2 linked regions of the Homo sapiens genome follow. The protein of the gene in region 2 interacts with the protein of the main gene of each other region in a pairwise test. Each region holds a gene or a part of one and is shown on either strand. Other genes may lie near its edges.

Region 1 (3,269 bases), on a different chromosome or scaffold from region 2:
GATTTGGAGCAGAAAGCAAGGGGATGTAGGCCCAAGGCTCCTGCTGGCACATGGGGGGATTCTCACCAGCCTCCACATCAGCGGGGTTGAAGCCATCTCGTAAGACATTGGGAGCTGCCCACTCAGTGCTGATCATGACATTGTGTCGAGGCTGGTACCAGAAGTCATAGCCCAACGGTGCAGCACCCCCAGGTCTCTCCCATGTCCCCTTCACCTCGAACGTCTCCCCATCCAGCAGCACAAAACCCCCTGAACAGGGAAGGAAGCAGGGTGGCAGGTAGAAGCAGTAGAGACACTAACCCCACCCTCCAGCCCTCTCCCCGAGGCATGTCTAAGAGGCTGTAAGCCCATTGCCTCTACCTCCACTGCTGGATTTGCCAGTTCCTTAAATTCAGGCATCCAGGGCTGGGGGAAGAGTGGCTCATGCCAGTAATCCCAGCCCTTTGAGAGGCTGAGGCGGGCGGATCACTTGAGGTCAGGAGTTCAGGATCAGCCTGGCCAACATGGTGAAACTCTGTCTCTATTAAAAATATAAAAAATTACCCAGGCATGGCGTCACATGCCTGTAATCCCAGCTACTCGGGAGGCTGAGGCAGGATAATCTCTTGAACCAGTGAGGCGGAGGTTGGAGTGAGCTGAGATTGCGCCACTGCACTCTAGCCTGGGCAACAGAACGAGACTCCCATCTCAAAAAAAAAAAAAAAAGAGAAAAGAAAAAGAAAAAAGAAAAGAAAAAGTAAATAAAAAATTCAGGCATCCAAAGGGTCTCATCCAGGTATTCAAATTTGGCCAGGTGGCAGGGGGGCCTTTACGCCAGTGCCCCTGTCTCCTGTCTACTTCATCTCTCTCTCAGACCACAGCAGAAACGTTTCTCCCACGAGATCTTCTGGGACTCAGCACCTGGTATTTCTCTTGTCCAGCCTCCCACTTTTGGAGTGGGATTCCTCCCAGAGTCTAAGCTCCATTCTGCTCACTACATTTTTTTGAGAGAGGGTCTCACTCTGACGCCCAAGCTGAAGTGCTGTGGTTCAATCACAGCTCATTGCAGCCTTGACCTCCCTGGGCTCGGGTGATCCTCCTACCTCAGCCTCTTGAGAAGTGGGGGTTATAGGCCTGTACCACCACACCCAGCTAATTTGTGTATTTTTAGTGCAGAGTTGCCAGTGCCAACTCTGTATTATCAGCAGACAACACAGAGATGGGGTTTCACCATGTTGGCCAGGCTGGTTTGGAACTCCTGAGCTCAAGCGATCCGCTGGCCTCGGCCTCTTGAAGTGCTGGGATTAGAGGAGTGAGGCACAACACCTGGCCTGTTTTGACTATAACTTTGAACTGAATTCATCAGTGAAGACTCATCTTAATAGAAATATTCAAAACTGAAGTTACTTGCTAACATTTAAAATACTGGCTGGGATCCAGCTCACTGGTTCTCCTTGGGAAGTCATTCCAACCCTCCCCTTCCATTCTGCTCCTCCCACAGAAAAATGCTTCCCACATTTCACAGCTGTGGAAGTTTTCATGAGCACACAGTGCTGGCAGGTACCTTTGCCATTGCCCTTGACGTCTCCCAGGGAGCTGATCATCACTTCCCCGCTGGCCAGGCAGTGGCTGGTGTGGAGAAAGGCCAGTTCGCACTTGGCATGGATGTCCTTGGGCTCAATGACCTGGAAGGGGTGGGGAATGGTGTCAGAATCATACAGGACTGGGAGTCCCTGCTCTTAACCTCCATACTTCCCCTACTTCTATCTGCTGACTCTGTCATCTTTTCCTTCAAAACATGGACACAACTCTCCCTGTGGGAATATGACAAAGATTCAGTCTGGTAACTTCTACAGAGCAGCAAGGGAAAGTCAGAGAGATTGCTAATAACTCCCCAGGCAGAAAGCGCTGACCTTTCCCCATGTGTCCTGAAGGCACACGCAGCCCTGTGAAACCATAAGCTCCTCCCAGGCTGGCCTACACCAGTGTCAACTCTGTATTACCAGTAGACAACACAGTAAATGCCTGGCACCAAAAGTGCACTAAACAAAGTGTTGGGAGAGACCGGAATTTTTAAGAGAACCCTGAGCTCCTAACTGCATGGGGGAATAAATGGCTCCCTCCCTCTCTCAGAGTAAAACAAGAAGCCTTGTCCCTCTTCTCCCATGCCCTGGTCACCGTGCTGGAGGGTGATGACCCAGAATGCCTGGGTAGACTCTGCTCTGAGGTCCAACCTCCCTCCCTGCTGCCGAGCCAGTTGCCGCGTAAGAGCTGGAGGCTGCTGGTTTAGGTCTGGCTTCCTGCCCGTAGACTACCTGGGGTGGCAGGTGTCTTATGGTCTACTGAGCTGGCAAGGGCAGAGGACATGCCTTGTGCAGCTTTGGGGCCCGGGGCTCAGAGCCCACGTCCACCACATAGATGCGAGAGGAGATGAGACTGGGCAGCACCAGCTTGGTGCGCGACTTGGTGCTATCACCGAAGCAGCTGCTGCAGGTGTTCCATCCTGAGTGATGCAGCTCGTCCTTCAGGTTGGGCATGGGCAGCCGGTGGATGACCTAGGATGCGGGGAGAGGTGGTGCTCCCCCAGGCCACGCCTCTGTCCACTTTTGGAAGAGGCGCCCTGTGGACTCATTTTGGTTTGGAAGCACGGCACAGGCTGGATTTCAGCACTCCCCTTGTCCCAGGTTGAGCGTGCACAAGCATCCCCAGGGAGGGCCAAGAAGGATGGAGCTGGGAAGGGGGGGCCCAGGGCCAGGGATGAGGGCAGCTATGGTCTCAAAGTAGCTGGCGCCCAAGCCCCGCCTAACCTGGCAATACTGGGGAGACTTGGGGTCAACATCCACAGTGGCCAGATAATCTGGGGCCTCAGTGCCTGTGTTTCGGTAAATGCAGGGCAGGTAGACGATCTCTTCCCTGGGTCCTGCACGGTAGAAAGCAGGCAGCAGGGACGGCAGGGTGGGAAGGAAAGGTAGGGGAAGTGCTGGGTGTGCCAGAGGGTGGGGGCTAGGTCTGAAGTCCCTCCACCCCCAGCTGTGGAATCAGTAGTAGGGCGCTGGCTCTCAGACCATGGGCAATTACCTTTCATGGCCTCCAGAGGGGTGGAGTAGCCGGGTCCACAATTCCCACATTTCGTAGCTGTGGAAGCAATGGGGCGCATTGGCTGGGCCACGCTCTGGAGGGTGAAGGCTCCCTCCGCACGTTCTGCAGCACACATCCCAGCGGGCCACGGCAGTGCGGCTGGCCTAGGTCCCCACTCCAGCCTCATCGCTCTGGCCTGTCCTCTCCGCCCC
Region 2 (3,818 bases):
TAACTTGCCCAAGATCACAAATACAGTTAGAAGAATGGAAGTAAAGTTGAAATCCAAGTGCGTCTGGCTCCAAGATCCATGCTGATGCTGTTTTTATCAAACCATTATGCCACACATTTATATGGGAGATGGGACAGCTGTACAAACCAGTATAATATAAAGGAGATTAATGTAACTCTTAGGGCTAGTATTAGAATATCACACATCTTAGCCTAATCTCTTCACAGGGGATAGGAAAACTGAGGCCCTACAGGCTAAATGCCCTGCCCATAGTCATACAGGTCAGTGGTGTCTGCAGGAAAATAATCCAAATCTGAGGAGGCACAGTTAAAACCTAGTTCTTAGAACATAAGACTAGGGCCGGGGGTGCAGTGGCTTACGCCTGTAATCCCAGCACTTTGGGAGGCTGAGGTGGGTGGATCACGAGGTCAGGAGTTTGAGACCAGCCTGGCCAATATGGTGAAACCCCATCTCTACTAAAAATACAAAAATTAGCTGGGCGTGGTGGCACATGCCTGTAGTCCCAGCTACTCGGGAGGCTGAGGCAGGACAATTGCCTGAACCCAGGAGGCAGAGGTTATAGTTAGCCGAGATCGTGCCACTGCACTCCAGCCTGGGCAACAGAGTGAGACTCCGTCTCAAAAAGAAAAAAGACTATGGAGGGCGGTGGGGAGAAACAAAAATTCAGAAGTTGCATTTGATGACAAGGATAAATAAGGGGGACATGAACAAGGAGGGCATTTCAGTTGGTGAGAATTATTCTAGCACAAGCACTAAGGTAGAAGAGGGAAGCAGGCTGCCCAAGTACAAAGGGAAATCTAGTCTGACCGGAGCCTGTGTGAGCCATGCTTCAGAGCTTCATAAGGGTTCAGAAAAATGCAGGGAGCATCCTTCCTTCACCCCTCCTCAAATCAGATGACACTGCTATTCATTATATGTGACACAGCAGTGGTTCTATACTAGGGAGGCTTCCCAAGCCAGAAAGCAAGAGGTTATCCTGGACGCCTGCCTGTCTGGCTCCCTCCCTCTCTCCTCCATTATTTCTCCACTTCCAATTAACAAGTACTAATTCTCTTGCTTTTATTTTTTTCAAAAAGAAGTTCATTAAAGAGCAAAGAGTTCAAACTGAAAAGTCAAGTCCCTCTTCTTTTGGACATCTTTTTAGGTGTCATAGGTATACAAATTTCTTAAGTTCCTTGAATCTATTCCCTTTACTCTCTCTACCATTGCCTTAATTCAAGGCCTTTCAACTTTTATTTGGTCAGTTGACAGTCTAACTAGCCTCCATGCCTCCAGTGTTACCTTTTCTAATCCAACAGAGTACTCTATGTACCATGGAAATCAGGTCCCTGTTATCACCTACTTATAAACCCCTCAGTGGTTCCCTATTGCTAATAGCCCACAAGTCTGCAAGTTCTGGCCTCTGGGGTCCTCTCTAGGCTATTTTCTAACCATAATGGGTTATCACAAACTTTAACAACACTAAAATGAGTGTAGTTCCCCAAAACAGCACCCTGTTTCGTGCACAGAATACCTTTCCCTCTCTTTGCCCAAGTCCATATCTCCTCATCCATAAAGAGGGAAATAACAGTACTTATCTCACGGCTATTGTGAGAATTAAATTAATTAATACAAGTAAAGCACTTAGAACAATGATTTGGCATCAGTAAGCACTCAATAAAATGCTACGTTAATAATAACAGCAATAGGAGGAAGAAACAGAGGAGGAGGAGTAACTAATAACTGACAAGAAGAAAAACAGCTTCTAGCCCTCGTCCTTTGGTGACATAATTCGGACATCAGCACCTCCAGAAAGGCTGTTGTGACCACTACTCACAATGGCACTATGTGCCCCCACAGCATTTAGTCCTTAAACATTTACAAAGAATTTATTACATACCACAACTGGGTGGACAGAAAAAGAGATTCAGTGCATGCCTCTACTGTTGCCCTTCCTTCCCTACAATGGAGCACTGTGTGCCTGCCACCCCTACCACACTGAGAGAGGAGGCGTCACCTCCATGAGGCCTGCATATAGCATAGTGTGTGGCATTGCAGCACTCAATAAAGACAAACTAAAATTAGACTTTAGTCTCATAGATAATTCCAAAACACAGGACAAAATTGAGCACACTCCTACATTCATTCTCAAGGTAGGTTTTCAACACAGAACATATTTATTTGTCCTTACCAGGTCAAGGCCTTTTTAAAAGGCATTCAGAAGTTGAGTCATTAACACTATCACTTACTTTTTTTCTGTTTCAGTGTCCTGATTTCATCTTCACTCTAAATGTCAAGAAAAAAAAAGAAAAAAACAAATCATCTTTAAAAAACTGACCTCTAGTGTATCATCTTAGACTCACAAATACAAATGCCTATTCTGAGTCAATTTAATTCTTTCAAGAGCATAAATTCTTTATATAGTACACATTCTTCAAACAAACAGACAATGAGAAAACCAGAATAAGCTGTTAATGACTCCAAGGTTATAACAAAGTCTTAGGGAAAAAAGAATACATCATTTTGCTTATTTTCTACCTAAATCATCGTAACTTTGGGTTATAAGTGTTTACTGGCTAATGAAAGGCACAAAAATACACCATGGCACTTGGAGTTAAATTCAAGAGGACACAAATCATCTTACTTCCCAATTTAACCCTGGAGATGTCCCATAAGAAGGAGGTTGCTGAATCTCAGGACTCAACACAAAAGTGATGAGAAATCCCTGAGAAGCAGAAGGTGAAAGTACCAGCATGGAAGAGATACACAGAGCATACACAGAGCATAGTAGGCCAAGTGGCACCAATAGGGTTAGACAAAGGAAGAACTTTCCAGCTGCATCCTTTACTTTCCTTCCAACCCTCTACAATGCTTAAATCATGAGCCACCTGTTACTTTCTGTGGCAGAAAAGCAGCAATGCCAGTGACAGCTGAAGACAGCAGGATGCCTGTTGGGCAGCACTGGACATGGTGCTGATAACAAGAAACATCAGCAGGCTGGTCAACCTGGACATCCCCTCCTTATCCTACGGACTGCACGTTTATAAGGATGGTGGGTCAGGAAGAGTATGCCTGCTGTGAGATATGTGAGGCTCTCTGAGGGACAGACTACAGGGAAATGATAGCTACAGGACAGCAAGTGATTGAGCTCCTCATCCTGATACATATTACACTTCATATCTATGGATTTAACCAACCATGCATTGAAAATGCTGGGGAAAAAATGGATGGTTGTATCTATCTTGAACATGTACAGACTTTTTTTCTCATTCTTCCCCTACATAACGTAGCATAACTATTTACATAGCATTTACATTGTAGTAGGTGTTACAAACACATAAATGTATTAAGTATCATAAATAATCTAGGTATTATTTGAAAATGGATGGTTGTGCCGGGCATGGTGGCTCACGTCTGTAATCCCAGCACTTTGGGAAGCTGAGGCGGGAGGATCACCTGAGGTCGGGAGTTCAAGACCAGCCTGACCAACATGGAGAACCCTCGTCTCTACTAAAAATACAAAAAGAGCCGGGCGTGGTGGCACATGCCTGTGATCCCAGCTACTCGGGGGGCTGAGGCAGGAGAATTGCTTGAACCCGGGAGGCGGAGGTTGCGGTGAGCTGAGATCGCACCCTTGCACTCCAGCCTGGGCAACAAGAGCGAGACTCTGTCTCAAAAAAAAAAAAAAGAAAAGGATGGTTGTGTCTATACTGAACACACAGATTTTTGTTCTTGTCATTATTCTCTAAACAATGTAACAGAACAACTATTTACATAGCACTACATTGTATTAGGTATTATAAATGATTTAAAGTCAC

Evidence for each region.
Region 1: the proteins of THAP12 (region 2) and SELENBP1 interact in binary tests that used the Homo sapiens proteins (3 or more experiments, as listed by UniProt).

What each region holds. Positions count from the first base shown.
Region 1 is NC_000001.11:151,366,656-151,369,924, forward strand, and holds part of SELENBP1 (methanethiol oxidase), read right to left. Parts: exon of another isoform or gene 3,245-3,269; coding exon of another isoform or gene 3,115-3,244; coding exon 3,058-3,114; intron 2,900-3,057; coding exon 2,787-2,899; intron 2,535-2,786; coding exon 2,349-2,534; intron 1,665-2,348; coding exon 1,544-1,664; intron 521-1,543; exon of another isoform or gene 361-520; intron 250-360; coding exon 67-249; intron 1-66. UniProt on the Homo sapiens protein: Catalyzes the oxidation of methanethiol, an organosulfur compound known to be produced in substantial amounts by gut bacteria. Selenium-binding protein which may be involved in the sensing of reactive xenobiotics in the cytoplasm.
Region 2 is NC_000011.10:76,353,369-76,357,186, forward strand, and holds part of THAP12 (52 kDa repressor of the inhibitor of the protein kinase), read right to left. Parts: intron 2,287-3,818; coding exon 2,250-2,286; intron 1-2,249. UniProt on the Homo sapiens protein: Upstream regulator of interferon-induced serine/threonine protein kinase R (PKR). May block the PKR-inhibitory function of DNAJC3, resulting in restoration of kinase activity and suppression of cell growth.